2 linked regions of the Homo sapiens genome follow. The protein of the gene in region 1 interacts with the protein of each later gene in a pairwise test. Each region holds a gene or a part of one and is shown on either strand. Other genes may lie near its edges. The genes, in order: CD200R1 and PTCH1.

Region 1 (16,880 bases):
ATACAAACTACAAATTATGTTGCTAGATTTTCAGACTATTGGCTTAAGTTTGCAATTAGTCTTTTTTATCTTATCTTACCTCCTCAACAACTGGAGTAGATTCTGTTTTATTCAATTTATATTTTCTATAAAAATAAAATAAATTGAAGTGAATGGAGGAAACATCATTGTTTAGATCGAAAATGGGAAAATAAGACAGTATACTATTGACAATTGTGTTTAATTTTGATAGAAGCCATAATAAATCAGAAAGAAACTACTAGAAATAAGTGAAGAATACTGCTCGTGGTTAATATCCCCAACTAAGAATATTCCGGATTTTGAAAAAGTGAAATTATGCAATAGAAGCTTGATGCAATTGAATGCATGTAACATCTCCTCTTTGGTGCATGAAGGAATTGTAATTATTTACCCAAATGTGAAAATTAACATGCACTTTCTCTCCCAAGATCCTACCCTAAATGGCCTAATTTTCCATGCTTCTATGCCAAAGCAACCTAGCAAAGTCTCTCTCATCATTCAAAGTAGTCCAAGTCTATCTAACACCTTCAAGATTTGATTATGGGAGATTTGATGTTAACATCCTAATATACCCAATACGGTCAGTTCCATATTTCTGACTCTTTTCTAGCCTAATAAAGCTGAAGAAGAAAAAAACATTCATTAGTCAATACCTGCAGCCATTGACTTTCAACAACCAAATGAATCCCACGATGGTCAAAATAATAATAGTAAGGATGATATATGGAATATATAATTTTGCTGATTTTTTGGCACCTGGAACTATAGACACAAAAATATATGGTTCAAATGTGGTACAATCCAAATAATGTACTATCTTATTATTCAATGTTAAAAAGAAATGAGCTATCAAACCATAAAAAGACATAGAGGAATTTCAAATGTATGTTACTAAGTGAAACATGCCAATCTGGAAATGTTACATATTGTATGATTCCAATTGTAAGACATTACGGAAAAGATAAAACTAGGGGAATAGTCAATAAATTATTGATTATCTGGTGGTGAGGAAGGAGGGAGGAATAGAAAGAGCAAGGAGGATTGTGTAGGACAATAAAACTGTTCCATATAATACTGTACTGGTGGATACATGTCATTACACATTTGTCCAAACCCATGGAATGTACAACACCAAGAATGAACTCTAATGTAAAGTATGGACTTTGGGTGGTAATGTTGTATCAATGGAGGTTCAACAGTTCTAATAAATGTAACACTCTGGTGCAGGTGTAGGTGGGAGAGGTTGGACATGGGCGAAGGCAGGGCTTATATGGGAAATTTCTGTACTTTCCACTCAATTTTGCGGTGAACCTAAAACTGCTCTAAAAATTAATGTCTACTAAAAATAAAGTTATCTATATTTATATCCATATCTATCTATATAGATCATTCAATAATGTCTCACAATACATGAAATTCATATCTGTAGTTTCATTTTCAACACTTCTGCCCCATTAATAGTTTGAGAATTATTAAAATAAAACTGCTTTTTCAATACAGACTCCAGAGTTTTCAGCAAGACATCACCTTATATCAGGGTTTTGTTGCTTTAAAGATTCATTGGTGGTGAATTCCTACCACTCTGTTATAGCAGAGTGTTTCTCCCCTCCAACTAAATGGGCAATTGTAAGGAAGATACTTGGAAAAGTAACCCTAATTCTGAAGTCATCTTTCTCCCAGGGCATTGAAACTGAAATGAATACACAGCAGGAACTTTATTTATTAGCTGCTGGCAGCAATACAAAACTCTATCTGACAAGCGTGCAAATCAACCAAGGAATTGCCAGCCTGAGAGGCAACGATTTGCAAACTATGCTCCTGGTGTTGCATGAATATAGCTCAGGGGCAGCAGAGGAGATGAAGTGGAGACTGAGCAGGCTGGCCTCTGGTCCTTCCACCTTTCTTCCACAGTTGATGTTTTTAAATACTGAATTTCTCCATATGTTATATGAAAATTAAATGTTTGGTTACATTGTTTAAAACAACATTTTTTAAAACCCTTGCTTTCAAACTACTAAGCTCTCTCTCATTAAATTTGTACTAGCAGAAGCTGAAGATCCACCGTGCAAGGAAGACATCAAGGAGATCCCTGCTGTACATAGGAATTTGAATGAGAATTTCCCTTCAATTCTGAGACACTATAAATCTGACATCATATAGTAATATGAAAGGTGATATTTCACACATAACCAAGGCACAACTTCTCTTTTCAGTAAATATTGCTAAACTCAAAAAAACCTACACATATGACTTAAATGATAGATATAAATAAAGGTGGTTTCAACACATGAGATTTTCTCTTCTCCCTCATTAAAACTTACTAAAATGTTGGTAAAAATAATTTTTTTTTTAGTGTAGATCTGCAAAGACAAAGAGAAGAGGATGAAGACAAGAACAGATGAAAGATTTCGAACTGTTTTTAAGTGAGAAATGAATAGAAAACTCGCTAATGATTTACAACATAGAATAAATACAAACCTTAGTATACACAAAACTCCAGGAAAACTCTAGAGTAGGAAGCATCAAATATAGAAGAAGAAGTATGTGGAGGGGTGAAGTGTGGGGCTAAAAGTTGAGAGCTTCTTTGAAATTTTGTCTTGAGAACAGGCAGGTTCCCTTGTCTCCTGCTCCATTTTATGTAGCACACCTTTCCCAACTAGCAGAAAAAGGGGAGATTGGCAGATTGGTCCAAAGAAGATGAACTGGAGAGACTCCAAAGTCAAGGATCCAGACATCAGGGAGGGTGAGAATGAAATACCAGACTGAAGAGAGGTATAAAAGGAAGTCTGATTCTCAACAGTGGCACACTCACATGCACACTCACACACATACACATATTGCTCCCTCCTTTCCCAAACACTGGTAGTCAGGCTTATCTCTCCAAGGCCAGAAACTGCTGAGTTAATTTCTGCAGAGCCTGAACAGCCCCAGAGAAAAGGCCTTCAGATACATAACAAATCTCTAGTTATTAAAAAATCACAGCTTCTTTTCACTGAACTGAAGCTAACTAGTTGACAAATCCAACCATTAACTAGTTGAGCTTCCAAGTAGCTCATATAGTACTCACTTCAAAATGAATCCATACCCAAGGATTACCAAAGAGTGAAGAAAAGTCTCATATATGAAAGAAAGAGTTAAAAACAAACAAATGTATAGAAGACAGAAGAAACTCAGATTAAATAGACACAGGCTAAGTAGAGGACTGAGGCAATGAGAGTGTCCAGGACAATAGCTGTACAGCAGATCTAGAGGCCAATCAGGAGAGATTAGACCAAACACATACCAAAACTCAAGAAGGAATGACTTTGAGAAAAAATAGAACTAACAGATTACCTAATAAATCTGACCATGTAGAAAATATTACTAAGGGGTTCTCTAGTTTTGTCAATAGGCTTAGTGATAGTTCACGATAGGTACATACATTCTTAAGGAAACAAAAAAGGTAAAGCACTTATGAAGTCCAAGGAAAAAAAGTCATTTGAAAGAGAAAGCATGAGTGTATTTCTTGATTCAGCACTTAACAGTACTTAAATATTCAAATTGATGGGAACATAGGCTATTTAATGAAAAATTGCATTACCTCAACTAAAGTTTGAAGGAAAGGAAGAAGGTAATGTGAAATCCTCATCTACCATAAGAAGTTGTGATTACATAATGTCTAAATTTGATACAGTAAGAAATAGCAGTATGAGCATGTTGTATAAAAATGGCACTAATTACCAGAAGAAACACTGGAAAATTTGAAAGTACCTACCTGTGGGGAGTTTAATGGAGATGGCAATTGGGTTGGAAAGACAGGGGTAGAGCTAATGTTTTTCAGGAAGCCTTACAGAACAATTGCACTTTAAATATGTTTGTTGATATTTAATAGTTTTTAAATAACAAGAAATGAGAGTAGGATGAGAGCAGAGAGTAAATAAACTAAACAGTGATTAAATGAATCATAGATGTTATTATAAGACATTTAAGAAATTCAATGATGAAAAGTCCAGAAAACAAAATTACAACAAACTAAAAATTCATAAAAGCAACTTTGAGTAAATGTATCCTTCTAATAGAACCATAATTACATGCTTCAAAGTATACTTTATCTTTCAATAAGCCATAAGTATTATTTTTAAAAGTATACTACTCATGCTAATTAACTACTAGCATAGAAGTGAACATTAATAGTAGAATTAAACTGCATTCTAAAAAAGGGCTTTTTACAACAAATGTCTGTACTATTCTCCTCAACTCATCTCTTTATTTTGGTCAGGGAAGAGATAAAAATGAAGAGTGGGGAGAGCATCCTCGAACAAAATATATTTGCACATCTTTTTTTTTCTTAACTCTTTTAAAAGAATGGAAAAAAATAAAAAATAAAACTAAAAGAATTACTGACCAGGAAGTAGCTCTATGTACAGACTCTTGTTGCCAGTCAAATGGGAGACGTGGCAGGTCACGGTAGACACATTGTGGACCTCCCAGTGGCATGTACTCTTAACAGTCACTGTGCCATTGCTCCAGTATTCTTGCTTAGTGGCACAATCGCCCTCTGGGATCCAGGAGATATGCGCAGCTGGCTTCCCTGCAACTGCCTTGCATACTGCAGTTCTATTCCTGTTTTGAAACAGGGTCACTTCAGGTGTAACTGCAGAGAGGAAAGAGGGAAAAAAATGCTTCGGTTTTCACATAAAGCATATGGAATTCAGAGAGACATTTGTTTCCGTCACAAATCTGGTGATGTGAAATACCTCAATATATGATGCTCCTTACCTAACACTTGGAGGTGATATCCACGATGGAAATTCCCATCAGGTGTTACCATTATGCATCTGTAATACCCGTCATGAGTGATGGCCACGGTACGAATCTGAAGGTCCGAATTCTGATCAGGTCTGGAGACCCAGGTTATTCTCTCATCAGTACAGTTGGTTTCCTTGGTCTCATTTGTTTCTTTCTTGTAGGCTTTTGTGCAGGAAGGCTGGCCTCTCAGGATTATTTCCCATGTTATTATGATCAAATTTCTTAATGCGATAGGAGGGCAACAAAGCACAGCATTTGTAGCCATCTTTACAGGCCATGAAGTGTTAACTGGACATGAAAAGAGAATGATAAAAGAAAAGCTTGATAAAGAACTTCATGTGTTACATTTATCCACAACATATGAAGTTACACTAGAACATAACTTTGTTGGTGATCTTATTCCAAAAATATTAGACCTTCATAAAAAATTAAAATTCTCAAAATATAAATAATATATTGAACCCAATCTAGAGATTAACCAATTTTCTCCTGTATTATGTATTATTAGAAATATGATATATAATAAAGTATTTTTTATATTAATGGAGAAGTTTTAATATCTAGAAACAAAGAGAATTGTAAATTAAACAACAAAGGCAATGTTCTACATCTAATCTTTAGGTGGTGGAGACTATTGCCTTTATCATACAATGTATGTGCCACAGGAAAGAAAATGGAACAATTAGTGATGTGGCTGTCTCCTCCTCAGCTTTGGTGAGCACAAAAAAGTCTATCTCTAAGGTTTTTGTTTCAGACAAACATAAATGTGGTATGTATTAATATATAGTGCTTTCTTTTAAAGTAACTAATATGGCATTTGGGTTGAACTAGCTAGAAATTTTTTTAAGTTCTTTTTTTTAAAAAGAATCACAAAGTCAGTGAAACCCACAGATCTTTAAAAAAAAAAAAACTATTATTCCACCAGTTGAGCCATCCCATAAAAATGAAAAATGATAATGCCCTGTGATAAGAGATGCTTAGAAATATTTATTTCTTGTGAAAATATAGTGTGATATATAATTTTTAAAAAACGATTTATTTCCCTTTAGACATTTTTTATTAAAAATATTTTATTGCAAATTTATGACATTATCAAATGTAGCCTTTGGATGAGTTTTCATTCCTTCCTATTTAGTCACACATACACTTTCAGATAGTTCAGCTGTGAACTTAGCTCACAGATTTTATTTCTGTATATTCAATCCAATTATCAACACTAAAGGCGTAAGTTGATCCCTGTTGTCCATCATTTAAAGGAAAAATTAAGCCCTGCATCCTACAAGCATCTTCCAACGTAGAACCTCATGCATCCCATAAATCGACACAATGTGTCAGTGACTTGGTAAGGGTTTACTGAGAGGTGATTAGTCCACCAAAGTATTTGTCACTACTCACCTCTAACAAAGGTAAGTGTCAGTGATTTCATCACTATAGCATAAGCAGAATCAGCTATAGAGGGGCAAACCTTTATGTGGGTGAAGGATGTTTTTGCTAAACCCTGCATTTAACATCTTTCCTATCCTGTTTTGGTGTCACCTGTCTCTTACATGGTTTGTACTCTAGCCCTTGCATTTCACAGCAAATTAATAAGTACATAACTAGATGAAGAAAGAGGTAATACTTTAACATAGATCTGAGAGGTAGTTAAATCCATGCTCCTTCCGCCACTCCACCTTAGCAAAGGTTCAGAGACAAGCAAGAACATGGCTTGTTTGGAGAACAACTAGAGGTTGGGTCATTCAGGATCCCTCATACCACAGTACTCAGATCACCAAGTTCTTCAAGTAGTCATAAGGCTGGCTTCCAGTCAGGTCATTAGCTAATATTTCTAAGGAAGTTCAACTTTCCATCCCTAGGTGCTGGCCACTAGTAAGGAAGCATATTACCTTCTGCGAGTACTTTCGAGTAGTTCTGTGTAATCTGTTTTTCATCCATACATAAACTGCTTGAAGCTAGAAAATATTTAGAGAAGAATAAATGAAATCAATTTTATGTACTCAGAGTGGAAGCCAGTATCCCTCCACAAAGTCTTATCCAACATGATAGGCAATCAGTTAACCATAATTAAAATTACACAAAAATCATTGTAAAACAGAAATTAGAAGTCATGCCATCATTAGGGGACTAAATGTGTTAATATCCTGAAAATTATACTTAAGTAATCAATAATTTCTCTTTCGTGATACACCTTGTTTTGAAATATTTTGAAAAAGATAAACCTGCCTCTACTGCATCCTTCTTCCTCAGCCAGGGAGATTGGTCTACGTGAGCATCTCACATGAGCTGGTCCAATTATATCCCTTTCTTCAGCTACCACTTCCCAATCAAAGTTATTTGGTCCAATGTTGGGCACTTCACCCAGGTTAATACAGCAGTGCCCTTTCTCAAGAATTTTAGAAGCAAAACTGAGAAGGGGCCATCCATCTCTGTTGCTTTCTCATTTTGTTTTCTACTTATTAGAGTACAAAGGGAAAAATATAGCAGAAGCAAATGTCAGCAAGATGGCTGACTAGAGGCCCCTGGTGCACATCTCCTCCAAAAGAAAGGACCAAGCAATAGACAGCTAAGATTCTACTGGAGTATCAAAGGGAGAGTGCAGGAGTGCAGAAAAGTAGTGGAGAGGAGCTCGTGGTCATCAGAAGCTCAGGAGGGAAGCATAAAAGCACCCTGCCTCTGGCACCCCATCCTTCCACATCCTCTTCCTGGATTGGCCCAGGCTCAGGAGGGACTTCCTCTTGCAGGGAAAACATAAGCAGAAGAACCCCACCAGCCCCTATAGCTACTGAAAAGAGTTATTTCAAGAGAATTTCACAGTCCTCACAAGCCCTGAGCCCAGTGTGGAGTGCTACCAGGAATTCATACAGCTGCACTGCTCCAGATAAGGGGCACAATGTGTACACCTGCTACCTCCCACCCACCCTCTGTGAGCCAAGCTGCTGCAGCAAGGGGCCACCATGGACTAGAGCCACTTTTGAAGTACACCGTGTCCTGGGGACTAGTAGCCACTGTACCTCTCCAGCCCACCAGCTGGCTATACATTTGCTGCATGGAGCCTGGGCTCAGGATTGGCTGTGACTCTGGTCCTGCACAGTAGGGAAACCAATCCCCTCTCCCCACACTTCCAGCCAGAGAAACAGTCTGGCAGTCCTACCCGGGACAAACCTGCCATTGAGCTGGCCAAACCACTGCATGCCCTCTCCTGAAGGGGAGAGGACCCAGCAGCTGACATAACCCTAGGCCAGCTGAGTGTACATGCATCCTCACCCAGGGCCTGGGAAACAGTCCTGTGCCTCCTCCCCAACAAACATGGCCACAGACATGTCCCCAGGCCTCCCCAGCAGCCCCATGCCCTCACTCAAGGCCTGAGAAATAGCCCTGTGAGCCCTCCATGTGGCAGATACACCCCCATGACTAATCAGCAGCCCACACCAACACTCAGGATCTGGGAAACTGTCAAGGGTGTCGCTCCCAGAGGACACATCCCCAGACCTACATATCAGTTCCATACCCACAACTGGGGCCTGAGAAACAGCAGGGCAGATCCACTCCCAGTGGACATCCCCCCCAGGCCAGCCCAGCAGTCACATCCACGGCTGAGAAACAGCCCCACAAGCTCACTGTTGGCAAATATAACCCCAGGCCTACCAAGTGGCCCCGTGCCTGTAACCAGAGCCTAAGAAACAACCCAGTGGATCCACCACTAGTGGAAACTCAGCCAGGCCAGCTGAGTGTCTGCATGATTATGTCCTGGGCCTGAGAAACAGCCAGCGGGCCCCTACTGTGAACAACCCTAGACTGACAGATTGTGCATTCACCCCCAGGAACTGAGAAACAGCACAGCAGGCATGCCCCTGGTGGACATACCTACAGACCAGCTGAGCAGGTGGGGACCTGTACCCAGGGCCTAAGAAATAATCTGGTGGGCCCACTCTCAGCAGACATGCCCCCAGACTGGCCGAGTGGCTGCCCACCCACTCCAGAACCTAAGAAACAGCCCAGTGGGTCCACCCCTAGCAGACATGCCCTGAGGATAGCCAAACAACCATGTGCTTGTGCCCAGGGCCAGAGTAAGAGCCCCATAGTCCCAAACCCAGCAAGCCAGATGCCAAGTTGAGTAACCCACCATGTGCACACAAGCACCCATAACCTGAAAAGCAGGCTGGCAAACCAACTCCCAGCAAAGCTGTGCCACTGCTGCCACAAACTCACCACCTAGGTCATAGGGACACTTGCAAACATCACTAGAATGGATTACATATAAATAAGCTTTTTCTTAAGAAGCCTACACCATAAAATTAGAAGAGGCGACAATTGCACCAGATATGTAGGTATCAACATAGAAACACATCAAACATGAAAAAGCAAGAAAATATGATAGACCCCCCAAATCAACCCAGTAATTCTCCAGTAACATAACCAATTATAAGGCAATATATGAAATGCCAGAAGAAGAATTCAAAATAATAATCTTAAGGAAACTCAATGAGATAAAAGAGAATACAGATAAACAATTCAATAAAATCAGGAAAACAATTTGTGATTTAAATGAAAAATTCAACAAAAAGATAGCTATCATAAAAAAAGAGATTTTAGAGCTGAAGAAGTCAATGAATGAAATAAAAAATACGATTTTTCAACAACAGCATAGAAAACGTAGAGGAAAGGATTTCTGAACTTGAAGACAAGTCTTTTGAAATAATACATGAGGATTTTAAAAACAAAAAGAAAAAGAATTTTAAAAAAATAAAGTTTACAGGATTTAGGAGACATCAGTAAGCAAAAAACATTCACATTATAAAAATTCTGGAAGGAGAAAAGAAAGAAAAAGGCACAGAAAACATATTTAATAAAATAATAGCAGAAAACTTTCCAAGTTTTGGGAGAGAGAGAGAGATTCAGATCCAAGAAGTTCAAAATTTCCCAAATAGATTTAACCCAAATACATCCTCTCTAAGGAATGTTATAGTCAAATTATCAAAAGGCAAAGACAAAGGAAGAATGATAAAAACACGCAAGAGAAAAGCATCAAGCCAAATATAAGGGAATCCCCCTTATACTGATAGCAGATTTCTCATCAGAAACCTTATGGGCCAAGAGAAAATGGAGTGATACATTCAAAGTACTGAAAGAAAATAACTGTCAGTGAATATTATATCCAGAAAAACTATCCTTCAGAAATAAAGGCAAGACTGTCACCAAGCAGAAAAAAAAAATCAATAAAATGACAGATGTAAGTTCTCATCTATCAAATAATCTTGAATGTAAATGGATTCAATTTCCCAATTAAAAGATATAGACTGGCCAAGTGGATTTAAAAATATAAGACCCAGCTGGGCATGGTGGCTCACGCCTGTAATCCTAGCACTTTGGGAGGCCAAGGAGGGTGCATTACCTGAAGTCAAGAGTTTGAGACTAGCCCGGCCAACATGATGAAACCCCATCCCTACTAAAAATACAAAAATTAGCTGGACATGGTGGCGGGCACCTGTAATCCCAGCTACTCAGGAGGCTGAGGCAGGAGAATTGCTTGAACCGGGGAAGCAGAGGTTGCAGTGAACCAAGATCATGCCATTGCACTCCAGCCTGGGTGACAAGAGCGAAACTCCATCTCAAAAAACCAACTATATGCCACCTACAGGAAACTCATCTCACCTGTAAAGACACACATAAACTGAAAGTGGAGTGGAAAAAAGACATGCAAACAGAATCCAAATACAAGCAGGAGTAGCTATACTTACATTAGATAAAACAGACTTTAAGACAAAGGCTATATAAAAAAGAACATTATGTAAAAATAAAGGAATTTATTCAGCAAGACGACATAACAATTGGAAATATATATGGACCCAATGTTGGAGCACCCAGATATATAAAGCTAATATTATTAAAGCTAAAGGGAGAGATAAACCTCAAAGCAATAATAGGTGGGGACTTCAACACCCTACTTTCAGCATTAGGCAGATGATCTAGACAGAAAATCAAGAAACATTGGATCTAAACCACACCATAAATCAAACAGACCTAACAGACCTTTACAGAACATTTTATATAACAGCTGCAAAATACACATTATTTTCACCAGCACATGGAACATTCTCCAGAATTGACAATATGTTAGGTCACAAAACAAGTCTCAAATAATTTTTAAAAATTACAATCATATCATCTTATGTGACCACAATGGAATAAAATTAGAAATCAATAACAAGAGGAACATTTGAAACTATACAAATACATGAAAGTTAAACAGCATGTTCCTGAATGACAAATGAGTAAAGAAAGAAATTAAGAAGTTTAAGAATTTCTTGAAACAAATGAAAATAGAAACACAAAATACCAAAACCTAAGGGATACAGCAAAAGCAGCATTAAGAGGCAAATCCATAGCAATAAATCCCTACATCAAAAAAGTAGTAATATTTCAAATTAACATCCTAACAGCACATATTAAGGAAGAAAACCAGGAATAAACTGAACCCAAAATTAGTAGGAGGAATAAAGATCAGAGCAGAACTCAATGAAACTGAACCTAAAAAGAAATGCAAAAAACCAACAACAAAAAAGTTTTGTTTTTTCTGTTTGCAATATTTTAACTTCAGGGGTATATAGGTAGGATGTGCAGGTTTATTAGGTAAATGTATGCCATGGTGATTTGCTGCACAGATCATTCCATCACCGAGGTATTAAGCCCAGCATCCATCAGCTATTCTTTCTGATGCTCTCCCTCCTCCCACTCCCCACCCTCTGACAGGCTCCAGTGTGTGTTTCCACCCTCCATATGTCCATGTGTTCTTATCATTCAGCTCCCACTTATAAGTGAGAAAATGCACTGTTTGGTTTTCTGTTTCTGCATTAGTTTGCTGAGGATAATCTAATCACCTCCACCTGCATCCATGTCCCTGCAAAGGACATGAACTCATCTATACATGGCTGCATAATATTTCATGGTATATATGTACCACATTTTCTTTATTCAGTCTATCACTGATGGGCATTTAGGTTGACTTCATGTCTTTGCTATTGTGAATAGTGCTGCAATGAACATACACGTGCATGTATCCTTAAAATGGAATTATTTATATTCCTTTGGGTATATACCCAGTAATCAGATTGCCGAGTCAAACAGTATTTCTGCCTCTATGTCTTTGATGAATCACCACATTGTCTTCCACAATGGTTGCACTAATTTACACTCCCACCAACAGTGTAAAAGTGTTCCTTTTTCTCCATAACCTCGCTAGCATCTGTTGTTTCTGGACTTTTTAGTAATCACCATTCTGACTGGTGTGAGATAGTATCTCATTGTAGTTTTGATTTGCATTTCTCTAATGATCAGTGATGTTGAGCTTTTTTTCATATGTTTCTTGGTTGCATGTATGTCTTCTTTTGAGAATTATCTATTCATGTTCCTTACCCACTTTTTAATGGGGTTCTTTTTTTCTTATACATTTGTTTAAGTTCCTTGTAGATGCTGGACATTAGGCCTTTGTTAGATGAATAGATTATAAAACTTTTCTCCCATTCTGTAGGTTGTCTGTTTACTCTGTTGATAGTTTCTTTGGCTGTGCAGAAGCTCTTTAGTTTAATCAGATCCCATTTGTCAATTTTTGTTTTTGTTGAAGTTGCTTTTGGCATCTTTGTCATGAAATCATGAAATCTTTGCCTGAGCCTATGTCCTGAATGATATTGTCTTGATTTTCTTCTAGGGTTTTTAGAGTTTGGGGTTTTACGTTTAAGTCTTTAATCCATCTTGAGTTGATTTTTGTACATGATGTAAGGAAGGTGTTTTACTCTGCTCTCATGCTGCTAATAAAGACATACCCAAGACTGGATAATTTATAAAAGAAAGAGGTTTAATTGACTCATAGTTCAGCATGGCTTGGGAGGCCTCAGAAAATTTACAATCACGACAGAAGGGGAAGCAGACATGTCCTTTTTCACATGGCAGCAGCATGGAGAAGTGCCAAGCAAAAGGAGGAAAAGCCCCTTATAAAACCGTCAAATCTCATGAGAATTCACTCACTATCATGAGAACAGCATGAGAGTAACTGCCCCCCATGATTAAATTACCTCCCAGCAGGTCCCTCCCATGACACATGGAGATTATAGAAACTACATTTCAAGATGAGATTTGGGTGGGGACACAGCCAAACCATATCAGAAGGGGTCCACTTTCAATTTTCTTCATATGGCTAGCCAGCTGTCCCAGCACCATTTATTAAATAGGGAATCCTTTCCCCATTGCTTGTTTCTGTCAGGTTTGTCAAAGATAAGATAGTTGTAGGTGTGCGGTGTTATTTCTGGGTTCTCTATTCTGTTCCATTGGTCTATGTGTCTGTTCTCGTACAACTACCATGCTGTTTTGATTACTGTAGCCCTATAGTATAGTTTGAAGTCAGGTAGCATGATGCTTCCAGCTTTGTTCTTTTTGCTGAGAATTGCCTTTGCTATTTGGGTTATGTTTTGGTTCCATATGAATTTTAAAACTGTTTTTTCTAATTCTGTGAACAATGTCAATTGTAGCTTAATGGGAATAGCACTGAATCTATAAACTATTTTGGGCAGTATGGTCATTTTCACAATATTGATTCTTCCTATCCATGAGCATGGACTGTTTTTCCATTTGTTTGTGTCATCTCTGATTTCTTTGAGCAGCAGTTTATAGTTTTTCTTAAAGAGGTCCTTCACTTCCCTTGTTAGTTGTTTTCCTAGGTATTTTATTCTTTTGTGGCAATTGTGAATGGGCGTTCATTTATGATTTGGCTCTTGTCTTGTCTGTTGTTGGTGTATAGGAATACTAGCAATTTTTGCACAATGATTTTGGATCCTGAAACTTTGCAGAAGTTACTTATCAGCTTAAGAAGCTTTTGGGCTGAGATGATGGGGTTTTCTAGATATAGAATCATGTTATCTGCAAACAAAGATAACTTGAGTTCCTCTCCTCCTATTTGAATTTTCTTTGTTTCTTTCTCTTGCATGATTACCCTGGCCACAACTTCCAATACCATGTTAAATAGAAGTGGTGAGAGAGGGCATCCTTGTCTTGTGCCAGTTTTCAAGGGGAATGCTTCTAGTTTTTGCCCATTCAGTATGATATGAGCTGTGGGTTTGTAAAAAGATTAACATAATTGACAAGCCATTAGCTAGATGAATAAAGAAAAAAAGAGAAAAAACCAAATTAATAAAATCAGAAACAAAAAGGAGACATAATAACAGAGACTACATAAATACAAAAGACCATTAGAAACTATTATGAACAACTACACATGAATAAATTCAAAAGATTAGAGAAAACTGAAAAATTCCCGGATACAGACAACCTAACAACTTTAAACCAACAAGAAATGGAAAACCTCAGTCCAATAATGAGTAATGAGATTGAATTAGTAATGAAAAGTCTCCCAACAAAGAAAAGTCCAGGAACAAATGGCTTCACAGCTGAATTCTACCAAACTTTTAAAGAACTAATACCAGTCCTTGATACACAGATGAAATACTTCAAACTATTCCAAAAAATTGAATGTAAAACTCATTTGAATGTCATCGAATGTCAAAACTCATTTGACAAGCCCAGCATGATTGTGATACAAAAACCAGATAAGACACAGCAAAAAAGAAAAGCACAAGCCAATACTACTAATAAACATATATATAAAATACTAGCAAATGAATTCAACAGAACATCAAAAACATCAGGCACCATAATCAAGTGAGATTCACCTCAGATATGCAAGGATGGTTCAACATATGCAAATCGATATTTGTGATACATTGCATCAACAAAATGAAGAACAAAAACTAGGTGATTATTTTAATATCATATGATCAGAAAAAGCATTTTATAAAATTCAACATCCCTTCATCACTAAAAACTTTCAATAAATTAGGTACAGAAGAAAGTACTTCAACACAATAAAGGCCATCTATAGGCCATGTAGCTAATATTATACTAAATGGGGAAAAGCTTTCAGCTTTTAAGAATTAGAAGAAGAATTAGAAGAAAAAGTGCCTACTCTCACCCTTGTTATTCAAGATAGTACTGGAAGTCTGGCCCAGAGAAATTAGGCAAGAAAAATAAATAAGTAAAGTACATCCAATTTAGAAAGGAGGAAGTCAAATTGTCCATGTTTCCAGATAAAATTATCTTATATAGAGAAACCCTAAAGACTGCACCAAAAAACTGTTAACACTGATAAACAAATTCAATAAAGTTGCAGCATACAAAATCAATAGACAAAACTTAGTAGCATTTCTATACACAAACAACAAACCAGATGAAAAGGAAATCATGAAAGCAATCCCATTTACAATAGCTACAAAAATATATAAATGAATGAATAAAATATCTACGAATGAATTTAACCAAGGAGATGAAAGATCTCTGCAAGTAAAGCCATACAACACTGCAGAAAGAAATTTAAGAAGACACAAAAAATAGAAAGACATCCCATATTCATGGACTAGAATAACTAATATTGTTAAAATGCCCATACTACCCAAAGTAGTCTACAGAATAAATGTAATTACTATCAAGATACCAATGAAGTGTCATTTCATTTAACAAAAATAGAAAAAAAATCCTGAAATTTACATGGAACCACAAAAGACCCGAAACAGCCAAAGCCCATACTGAGCAAAAAACAAACAAACCAAAAAAAAAAAAAAAACAAGCTGCGGCATCACACTAACAGACTTCAAAATATACCATAAAGCTGTACTAATCAAAACAGCATGGTACTGGCATAAAAACCGACACATAGAAAAATGGAACAGCATAGAGAACCCAGAAATTAGTCCACATATATACAGTCAACTGCTTTGACAAAGATGTCAAGAACATACATTTGGGAAAGGACACCTTCTTTAATAAATGGCGCTGGGTAAACTGAATATTCATATGCAGAAGAATGAAACTAGACCTCCTGCCTCTCACCCCATACAAAAATCAACTCAAAATTCATTGAAGACCTAAATATAAGACCAGAAACTATAAAACTGCTAGAAGAAAACACCGATGAAATACTTCAGGACATTGATCTGAGAAATAATTTTAAGAATAAGACCTCAATAGCATAGGTAACTAAAGCAAAAATAAACACATGGGATTATATAAAACTAAAAACCTTCTGCACAGCAAAACAATAAACAGAATGAATAAACTTACAGAATGGGATAAAATATTTGTAAAATATTCATCCAACAAAAGAGTAATATCCAGATATACAAGGAATTCAAATATCTCCACAATAACAGAAAAACTAACTTAAAAATGGGTAATTGATACAGATATTTCTGAACAGAAGACATACATATGGTTAACAAATACATGAAAAAGTGCTCAACATCACTAATCATCAAGGAAATGTCAATTAAAATCACAAGGAGATATCATTCACCCCAGTTAGAATGGCTATTATCAAAAAGACACAAATAAATGTTGGTGAGGATGCAAAGAAAAGGGAATTCTTATAAATCACTGATAGGAATGTAAACTAATACAGTCTCTATGAAGAATAGTATGGAAGTTCCTAAAAAAATTAGAAATAGAAATGTCATATGATCCAGCAATCTTGCTCGTAAACATTTATTCAAAGGAAAGGAAATAAATATGTTAAAGAAATATCTATCTGCACCCCTATGTTTATTACAGCAATATTCACAATAGCCAAGACAGGAAATCAACCCAAACGCCCAATAACAAATGAATGGATAAAGAAAATGTGGTATATATACACAATGGAATACTATTCAGCCATAAAAAATGAAATCTTGTCATTCACAGCAACATGGATGGAACCGGAGGATATTATGTTGAGTGAAATAAGCCAAGAACAAAAAGCCAAACATCACATGTTCTCATTCTATGCAGAAGTTTAAAAAAAGTTGGTCTCATAGAAGTAAAAGGCAGAACACAGGCTTCTATAGACTACAAAGGGTAAGGGAAAGGGGGGAATAGAGGAAATTTGTTAAAGGGCACAAAATTATAGCTAGGTAGGATGAGCAAGTTCTATTGTTTTATAGTACTGTAGGATGACTATAGTTCACAATAATATATTACATATTTTCAAAGAG
Region 2 (10,645 bases), on another chromosome or scaffold:
CAAGGTACGACCCTGGATACAAAACAAGGGATAAGGTTGGGTTTCCACTGCCCTTTAGCCAGTGCTTCATATTCCAATGCATGCACACTCTAGAAAATTGTGACTTTTTACTTATTTTACAGCAAACCTTAATATCTTAGCTAGAAGTTCTCCTCTTATGAATATTTTGTGTCAATAATTATTTTCTAATGTAAAGTTCTAGGCCAAAGGAATAACCCCAATTGCCCATTTTCCTTCAGCTATGGGACCCTAGAAGTAAAATGTTAATCAAAATTTTGTTTGCATAATCCAGTGTGAAATAAAAATGAACACATTTGTACATGACTCGAGGCATGGTTTTTATCTGACTCTGCCTTATTTGCATGTATGTTTTAAGATGTGACATGTGGGATAGTTTTGAAATTAACCATTATATAGTTTTAGGAGTAAAAAAAATCAAAGACAAACTATTGTAATGTCGATAAAGACCAATGAGATGACATAGTTTTAATGGGAATTCCATTAAAAACCAATGAGGCTCCCACCATTTAAAAGCCACACAAAAATGTCAGCAAGGAAAGCTGACTCAAGGATAATTGTTTCCTTGTAGAAAATGTTCAAACACCACATCAACCATTCAACAGGCCTGAAAAACGTGTAGGCAGCAAAGGGCTCCAGTGTCTGGTCATTCTGTGTTGAGTGCTCTAGCGGACCCTGTAAGAGTCAGTCATGGAGTCCCAGGGCTGCCTGGGACCCTGATTGCTTAGCACCAATGGATCTCACTTGGTCTAGGTGTATGCTGTTCACACAGCAATCAAAACATGATTCAAATGCACCTTAAAAAAAAAAACTCAACTCCAGCTGATTTACATCTATAAAGGAAGAAACGTATAGAGATGATCTACAATGCTCTATAAAAAGGTTAACCCTTTGCACTGCCTCGAGACAATCCCCCTTTACCCCCTTCCCAATCCCTGCCTAACATGCCACATTGAGCCTCCAGAGCAATGGCCAAAGACACTGAAATACACTCTACAATAACCCTTCTCTGCTCACAGACTGGCAGGGCACAGCAGATCTCTTTGTCATTTGTGGCAAGTTATTTATATGTCTTTGGTCAATGGGGGGAAAATGAAAGCAGGGACTCTCTCCACTGTCTCTCTTTTAACTCATTATCCCAAAAACCATTGCTTTCTAAACTAAATGTGAAAAATAAAACTTGGAACAAATTCACGTTCGTCTCAGGAGGGTGTTAATAAATAATAATCATGGCATGTTCTCTGTACCTTCCTCCAAAAGGAAAGTCAAATTGGGTGTACATGTAGACACAAAGTTCTGGTAAACACAAGTCAAGGCCAGAAGCTGTATGGAACCATCCTCTACCAACCTCAAGTTGTTGACCATTTCCTGCAAACTCTCAGGGAAACTGGCTGCTGAGTCTTTACATACAAGTGTATTGACTTCAGACCAAAAAAGGCACTTACATCTGTGTTTAAACAAGCCTAATTAAGTGGGAAATTAAGACAATCATTTGGATAATCCAAGCCAAAAAATGTTGGGGGCCATAATGATTTGGTACTCCAGTAAAAGTGTTTTGCTTGAATTGGGTGGATAATTATCCTGATTCTCTACTTGGCTTTGCATGTGTCAATGCAGAATAAATGAACAGATGTTCCTGGAATCACTGCATACATTTACGTGCAGTCGGTCAGGAGAAAATTTAGACTTTTTTTTCCCCTCCAGCTGATGAATATTTCCTAGAAACATTTCTAAGAGTGAAGAAGCCAATAAAGGCACTGTTATTTATTTATTATTTTTGGAGATGGAGTCTCGCTCTTGTCGCCCAGGCTGGAATGCAATGGCACAATCTAGGCTCACCGCAACCTCCACCTCCCAGGTTCAAGCGATTCTCCTGCCTCAGTTTCCTGAGTAGCTGGAATTACAGGCACCCACCAGCACGCCCAGCTAATTTTTGTATTTTTAGTAGAGAGCTGGTTTCACTAGTAGGCCAGGCTGGTCTCGAACTCCTGACCTCAGGTGATCTGCCCGCCTTGGCATCCCAAAGTGCTGGGATTACAGGCGTGAGCCACTGTGCCCCACCAAGAAAGGCATTTTAAAACAGAATTTAATTATTTATAAAATAATGTGAAATGTTACTAAGCATTTATAACTTTACTTCAAGTACCAAATCAAAAAATGGTCAAAATGAACCCAACCGTAAACTATGGAGCCTGGGTAATAATGTGCAGGTTCATCAGCTGTAACAAATGCATCCCTCTGGTGCGGGATGTTTACAGTCGAGGGGGCTGTGTGTGGGTGAGGAAGGGGGATATGGGCCATCTCAGCACCTTCTGCTCAATTTTCCTGGGAACCTAAAACTGCTCTAAAAACAAAGTCAATTAGAAATAGATAATTTTTAAAGAGATGGTCAAAATATGGAGTGTAAGACTATGTCCACTGCTTATCTAGCATCTCCTGGTGCAGTAAGCTATAATTTGGCAATCAGTCTGGAAATCCCAGCCGCACTTTGATTTTATGTGGTCACCAAACTAGCCACCGTCTATCCAAGAGGAAAGAGCACCAGAAGCCTCGGCTCCACCTGTTACAACATGCTCCCCTTTTCCTGACGTGCACTTGTACATTCTCACAGAAGCTCATCTGAATTATCTGCATCATTTTATAGGTAAAAGCCAGATCTGGGAGGCTGCTGCAGAAACAGTTCATGTAAGAATCTTGAGCAACTCTTAAAAGTCCATGAAACACGTCAGTGTTACATTCTAATCTAACGCTCTCATAATCATGACAAAGGAACCTGTTGAAGCTGAACACGCAAAAGACCGAAAGGACGAGAGCCTCCCACGCCGTCTTACCCTGAAGCCAGTCTCTGAAGTAGTGCAGCCACATTTTGGGAAGCTGTTTGTTTTCTTCCAACATGACATACTTCACGTTACTGAAACTCCTGTGTAGGTCGTAAAGTAAGTGCTGGATATTCGGGTAGTCTGCTTTCTGGGTGACTATATACATGTTGTAGAAAGAAAAGTATTTGAATTGTGCAGCAATAAAGTCATATTCTCTGGTTTCCCGAGGTACAATGTCCGTAAGGTCCAGCCCGTCTCTCACTCGGGTGGTGCCATAAAGGCTGACCCCCAGCAAGCCCAGAAAAAGGAAGATCACCACTACCTGGAACAGAAGAGGCACAAGGTCAGACCCCAGGGAGCACCACTGACTCTTCCTGGACAAAGAGAAGCTGTCTAGTTAATACCTTGTTTTCACCACCACACTTAAACTGATTTATCTTGTAGGGGTTGTTCTCCCATAGGAAAAAGGATAAAATCATAGTAATCGCATTTTTATTTTGTTTTGTTTTATATATAATTTTTTGAGACAGTCTTGTGTTGCCAAGGCTGGAGTGCAGTGGTGCCATCTCGGCTCACTGTAACCTCCACCTCCCAGGTTCAAGCAATTCTCGTGCCTCAGCCTCCCAAGTAGCTGGGATTACAGGTGTGCACCACCACGCCTGGCTATTTTTTTTTGTATTTTTAGTAGAGACAGGGTTTCACCATGTTGGCCAGGCTGGTCTTGAACTCCTGACCTCAGGTGATCCACCCACCTCGGCCTCCCCAAGTGCTGGGATTACAGGCGTGAGCCACCATGCCCAGCCTTGTTTTGTTATGTATCTGAGTTGGGATCTCACTCTGTCTCCCAGGATGGAGTGCAGTGGCATGATCAGGGCTCACTGTTGCCTCCAACTCCTGGGCTCAAATGATCCTCCTGTCTCAGCTGCCCAAGTAGCTAGGACTACAGGTACACAGCACCATGCCTTTTTTCCCCCTCTCTTTTGAGACAGGGTCTTACTCTGTCACCCAGGCTTGAATGAAGTGGCACCATCACGGCTCACTGTAGCCTCGACTCCCTGGGCTCAGTGACCCTCCCACCTCAGCCTCCTAAGCAGCTGGGACTATAGGCACATCACCATGCCCAGGCAATTTTTTGTAGAGATGGAGTTTCATCATGTTGCCTGGGCTGTTCTCGAACTCCTGGGTTCAAGCAATCCGCTGGCCTTGGCCTCCCAGAGTGCTGGGATTACAGGCGTGAGCCACCACACCTGTCCCTGGCTAATTTTTAAAATATTTTGTAGAGACAGGGTTGGCCTTTGTTGCCTAGGCTGTTCTCGAACTCCTGGCTCAAACAATCCTCCTACCTCAGCCTCCCAAAGCGCTGGGTTAACAGGCATGAGCCACCGCAAGTGGCAATAATCACATTTTTAAACAACCTCATTCATAAAAAGACTTGCTGCATAGAGGTTCACTCCCATGGAAGATGACCTCATTAAAATGGCCCTATGCTCTAAAAGCATTGACTTTTGGAGGACTGAAATGTATCATACTTAAACGAAATTTTTTTTTTTTTAAGGAAAAAGAAGAAAAGTAGAAGCAATCTGATGAACTCCAAAGGTTCTGTTATTTTTTTGAAGACAGGAAGAGCCTTAAGTTGTGGCAGATTACCTTGGCTTTTGGTTTCAAGAGGAAAGGAGCATAGTGCTTCTCAGCAAAAGATGAGAGTGTCCACTTCGTACAGGGGGGCTCGAGGCAGTGGAGGCTGGAGTCGGAGAACTGGGAGAGCAGGTCCCTTGTGGAGCTGGTGCTCTCTGGGCTCTGGCAGCTGAGGGTGTCCTGTGTCACGGTGACGGGCTGCACAGAGATCTCGGAGCGCGGCTCAGCGGTGGTGTAGTACACGTGCGTGTGGGGGTCGTACTCCGTGCGGAGCTGGACAGTGGACTGCATGGTAATCTGCGTTTCATGGGCAAAGCTGTGGCTGCTGTAGGGAGGTGGGGGGCTGTAGCGGGTATTGTCGTGTGTGTCGGTGTAGGCCTGAGGTTCAACCTGAATCACTCTGCTGACGCAGGGGCTGAAAGGAGGGGAAACATGTTGCAATGTTATGCTGAAACAGGGAAATGGTGCTTTCATTCTGCCATTTTTCACTGTGTACGGAGAATACCCATTTTACACAGCTCTGACTTAGGAGAGAAACATCACATTGCTGAATTCCAGAAACATCGCCTGGTTGATAACATCACCTGGTTCATCGCCTGGTGAACTAGATAAAAGTCAGTCTGAGGAGGCCACATGGAGGACTGATCCTAAATTTGGCTTTCAAAAGCAAGTTCCATGATGATGAATCCTTCAAAGCACAATTCCAAACAAAACCAAACCACCATCAAAGGACTATATATTTTCTAGATGGGTGTTTTTCAATCTTGTTCTGCTCTAATGCAGAGATATGAAACATTCCTACAATCGGCAACATCAGTTCATGATGGAAAAAGGGGTCATCGGAACCAGCATCTTGAGGGCTGTGAGACTGTTCAGCTGCGGCAGGGGAGAAGGAAGCCCAGGGACTCTGATGTCCCCCTAGGGAAGCAGCCTCTGTCCAATCTCTCCCCTACGTTCTCCACACCAGCACAAACCCCGTTACCCACATTCCTTTATAAGTCCACAGGCTGAAAGAGTTCTCTCACAGCACCATTCTGCACCCAATCAAAAGGCCACAGCAGTCTGAAAATGTACCTTGTAAAACAGCAGAAAATATCCAGTCTCCTGTCCTCGCGTCGATATAAATCCATGCTGAGAATTGCAGGAAAAATGAGCAGAACCATGGCAAAATTGAACACCACTACTACCGCTGCCTGGGAGCAGAAAAAAAATTCAGAGGTCACCAACATGCCTCCGCCCAATCAGAGGACTGCTTCGAAAATAAAGATGCTTTTAAACAATATTTTTCTTTCCCTTTCCTCTTGAAGCATTTGAAACCGTGACAGATGTTAAGAGTTTCTTTTGCTACATCATCAAGAGCCTATTTGATAGGAATAGTCTTGACTGTTTCTGGGCCTTTCTATCTCTAATAATTCCATAAACCGATAAGGCACAAACCTGGGAACTAAACTACTAACGTGTTGCTAGTAACCTAACCAAACCAAATCCACAAAGGCAGAACAGAGAGCACACTCGAGATAGAATTTAAAACAAACAGAAGCAGTTCCCTTCCAGAATGCTTCCAAGAGGTCACGCGACCCTGATTTTACAGTTAAACATTTTTATATAAAGTGGATCGAGTATATCAAAATGTCCCCCTTTAAAACGTGAAATACAATTTCACACGTGTCCCCTGAGGTTTTAATAGGCACATTCCAAATTGCCTCTGGAGTAGCCTGTGGGGTGTGAGAGCAAGAAACATAAAAGGTCAAGGAGAGTTAAGCAGAAAGAAATTCCTGTGTGTGATTATAGTACGCAGAATAAATAAGTACAGATTCAAAAGTCACTCCATAACCTAGAATAAACACAGGGCTAAATTCTGCAGTGCGTTGGCAAATCTTCTGCTGACCTAGTAAAAATTACAAAATTGGGCTGTTAATAGGGGAAGCCAACAGAAGCCGGTGGAAGTCGACCCAGCTCGGAAGGGCACGGCAGAAGGGGCACCACAGAGAAAAGCACTGGCAATGCTGAGGAGCCAGGAAATTGCCAGACATGGCTTTGAAAATAAAAAACGAGGCCAGGCGCGGTGGCTCACGCCTATAATCCCAGCACTTTGCGAGGCTGAGGTGGGTGGATCACGGGGTCAGGGATCTCCTGATCAAGACTATCCTGGCTAACACGGTGAAACCCCGTCTCTACTAAAAACACACAAAAAATTAGTTGAGTGTGGTGGCACATGCCTGTAGTCCCAGCTACTTGGGAGGCTGAGGCAGGAGAATTGCTTGAACCTGGGAGATGGAGGTTGCAGTGAGCCAAGATTGCACCACTGCACTCCAGCCTGGGTGACAGAGTGAGAGTCTGTCTCAAAAAAAAAAAAGAAAGAAAGAAAGAAAGAAAATAAAAAACGAGGCTTCTCAAAGAACTGCTTAGTTCACAAATCTCAAACTGATAAACGTCCTAGGGTGAGGAAAGAAAACCTGGCTATAACTGCCACCTAACACAATCCAGGGAGAACTTCCACAAAGGGCTTTGGATGGGAATTGTGAGTTTATGCTGAAGGTGAACCAGCAAGCCTGAGTTCCGGAGAGATGTCTTCCAATAATTAATTCCCTCTCAAGAGCGTTCTTCTAAAAACTACCTAACCTCTTTCTTCTTGGTCTATCTTGAAAATCCTTCATCAACTGAAAAATATGAAGCATGTTAGCTTACCACTCTAATGTATTTAAGACCTGTCTGATAGACCTACACAAATAAGCTCATCACCACTGTGACAAGAGAATTTACCTGAGAAAGAGAGAGATCTTTTAAAAAGAAAAGTCTAGTACTGTGCTGGGTGCTGGAGACACAAAGATAAATAAGACAAAATCCTACTCTCAATTCTCACAGAGCCAGACCTATACACAAATGACAATCTCGAATGATGGATGGCGTCATGAAGGCAGGTGTCAGGCTGCAGAGCAGCTCAGTGGGGTGGAGGGGTGGTCAGTCAAGGCAGGCTTCCCGGGAGAGGCTTCAGCAGGGTTTATAAGATGAAAAAGAGGGCCGGGCACAGTGGCTCATGCCTGTAATCCCAGCACTGTGGGAGGCCGAGGCGGGCAGATCACCTGAGGTTGGAGTTCGAGACCAGCCTGACCAACATGGAGAAACCCATCTCTACTAAAAACACAAAGTTAGCCAGGCGTGGTGGCGCATGCCTGTAATCCCAGCTACTCGGGAGGCTGAGGCAGGAGAACTGCTTGAACCCAGGAGGCAGAAGTTGTGGTGAGCCGAGATCGCACCATTGCACTCCAGCCTGGGCAACAAGAGTGAGACTCCGTCTCAAAAAAGAAAAGCAAAAGAGATCAGTCAGGAGCAGGGGAATGGCAGGTGCTCCCTGTGAAAAAAACACAGAGTGTGCAAGAGGAGACACCTGGCTCAAGCACCTCAGTACTGCTGGGGTTTGAAATTCACTTTGGGGAAGAGAAAGGAGAAGCTATGAAGATCAGATCGTTCATACCTGATTCATAGCAAACAGGAGGTTCTCACTGCTCTTGACAGTATTACCTGATAAAGTCCCCGAAGTGCGGTCAAGTCACCTGCCTGAGGTTATCCAGTAAATCAGATCAAACAAAGACTTGATGCCAAGCCCCTAGCTCAGCTGAGAACCGGGAGTTTTGTGAGATCTGGTCCCTTACTGAGAGGACGTCTGTGGACGGGGTTAGGACACCTGACCGTGAGACAGCAGGGGATGGCAGGAAGAACAGGTAGGATTCTAACGGAGATTTTCCAGATGTCATCCTGGGGGCCGAATCCTTTTAGCTTTTAAAATCAGTCATGTTTAGAATGGAGGAGTGGAATGTAGAGAAGAGACCCTGGGCATCCCAATTTGGACAGGTGTTCATGAGGATGAGGAGAGCAGAGGTTCGTGACACAGGGAGCCCCACGGGCACAGGCATGGGCACCAGCCGGCCTCATCGGTCAGAGAAGCCTGCTGGGCACCTTGCTCCGTGTCCATGACGGAAATGAAGGGATGAGGGAAGAACCCCAAGCAGCGTCCCATCTTACTGACTTTCTCATAACCTACTACATGTATGGCGGAGTATTTTCTCAGTGCCAGGTCCCCAGGTGTACACCAAAATAGTAAAACAACCAGCAAGGGCTGCTCAGAAAGCAAGAAGGGTTGTCGCAAAGGCAAGAGAGTGTAAGTAAACCAGAGAAGATGATGGGGATGATACTGCAACTGTGAATCAATTCTAGTTATTGTACTCATAGGAAATGCCCCATCCCCTCAAAGCAGCTAAGGCTGGGACACATGCAGAGGAGGTTCCACTTGAACCCTCCTAGACCAGACAGAACAACAAGGGGTTCTGTTCTGTGAGTTTTCATTGAAGAATAAACACTACTGGGCTACCAGCAAGCCCTAGTTAATTACAAAGAATTACAGCTGATGCCAGTGATTTCTGGTGTAGAGATGGCATTTAGGCAGATGGATAAAGGCTGATGAGGTTTAAGACAGTTTCCTTGTGGAAAAAAATATCTAATTATTTGGTCAGGCTACAAAATTGGAGGAGTTTTATATGGAAAATTCTGAAGGTAACGCAGGTTTACTATTGGACAGAACCGCCTTGGGTCACTCCCTTTTGATGTTTAATCTGTAGCATCTTGCAAATATAAACACAACTGAACACCCAGAGTCAAACCTGATACTGTTCATCAATGGAAAGAGAAGCTACATAATGGCCAATTTTGAGGGTCAATACATTTAAAAGAGAACCAGGGAAAATTTTCTGATGGCCACTGCAAAAATCATTGCACACTCTCTCTTTTCTTTGCATTTTCTATCCTATTTTTTTTTTTTTTTTTTTTGAGACAGAGTCTTGTTCTGTCACCCAGGCTGGAGTGCAATAGCACGATCTCAGCTCACCGCAACCTCCGCCTCCCGGGTTCAAGCGATTCTCCTGCCTCAGCCTCCCGAGTAGCTGGGATTACAGGCGTGAGCCACCGCGCCCGGCAAATTTTGTATTTTTAGTAGAGACGGGGTTTCACCATGTTGGCCAGGATGGTCTCGATCTCCTGACCTCGTGATCCACCCGTCTCGGCCTCCCAAAGTGCTGGGATTACAGGCGTGAGCCACCGTGCGAAGCACTCCTTTTTTCTTTTGACAGAGAATTAACCAGTGTCATGAGGAGGTATTCTTCAGTAAGATGAGGACTCTTGGAAGCTATAGTTGCAATTTTCTACAGTGATACTGTGGTGCTTTGAAACAGAAACACAAAAACCAACAGTACTCATTTTTGTCTCTGTAAGGTGCTTACCTTGGGAGAATTTAGCGCACTGGATTTTCTACAAGGCTACTCCTCGTAAGGAAACCTCATGTAGCTTTTCAGACCACCACACCACAGGGTATCATTAAAGGAGAGTCGGCCTCGATGAGCCATCAGTATGTACTAAGAGAGGAGAGGAGAGAATGAGAGAGAAAAGAAGAAAAGAAGGAGTATGAGCAGATACAGAAAGACAGTGAGCAAAAAGGCAAGCAGAAAAGAAGGGGAGAGGAGAGAGAATGGGCAGACAGGGTCCCATGACTAAAAGACTCTAGAACAGTTTCTCAATACCAGCACCGGCTGCACGTGAAATGAGACTGGGGTACCACAGGGTGCTGAGCAGACACACACCTGCGCACAAAGGCATTCTACAACTTCAGCTGCACTGCGAGTCTGGTTCACCTTTCATGCCACTGAGCAATCAGAGAGAGTTTCCTTGTCCTGTGCTTTGGTTCGAGCATCAGATCTGAACGTTATTCATTGATTCACTATTTTTACTTCTATATAAATTTATAATATAAATAAACCCTGTTTTCTTTTCTTTTTATGTTTCTTTTGGGGCTGGCGGTTACGGTAATTGGCATAGAATCTTTTCTCCAGCTGTGCCTCACACTAAATACTAAAGATGCCTCCATTCCCAAACCCAGTAGGATCAGTAGTTGCCCAGGCCTCTTGGTTACTAGCGAAATGACATTCAAATACGTGATTGATTGGTTCCTCTTACATGACAAATGGAAAGACTAGGAAAGAGCTAAACATATTGACAAAATATAAACAGAAACCAGATGCAAGACTGGTCAATTTCTCTTCCTGCTCGCATCTGCAGGAACTCTTGGTGAGTAGAGTAAAGCTGTGTGAGTGTGCCGGGCATCCTAACAACAAGTGAAAAAGTGA

Evidence for each region.
Region 2: the proteins of CD200R1 (region 1) and PTCH1 interact in binary tests that used the Homo sapiens proteins (3 or more experiments, as listed by UniProt).

What each region holds. Positions count from the first base shown.
Region 1 is NC_000003.12:112,924,411-112,941,290, forward strand, and holds part of CD200R1 (cell surface glycoprotein CD200 receptor 1 isoform a precursor), read right to left. Parts: intron 6,762-16,880; coding exon 6,696-6,761; intron 5,098-6,695; coding exon 4,780-5,097; coding exon of another isoform or gene 4,733-4,779; exon of another isoform or gene 4,655-4,732; coding exon 4,406-4,654; intron 784-4,405; coding exon 675-783; intron 126-674; coding exon 80-125; intron 1-79. UniProt on the Homo sapiens protein: Inhibitory receptor for the CD200/OX2 cell surface glycoprotein. Limits inflammation by inhibiting the expression of pro-inflammatory molecules including TNF-alpha, interferons, and inducible nitric oxide synthase (iNOS) in response to selected stimuli.
Region 2 is NC_000009.12:95,464,267-95,474,911, forward strand, and holds part of PTCH1 (protein patched homolog 1), read right to left. Parts: intron 5,754-10,645; exon of another isoform or gene 5,666-5,753; coding exon 5,547-5,665; exon of another isoform or gene 4,888-5,546; coding exon 4,485-4,887; exon of another isoform or gene 4,393-4,484; intron 3,181-4,392; exon of another isoform or gene 3,160-3,180; coding exon 2,850-3,159; exon of another isoform or gene 2,663-2,849; intron 1-2,662.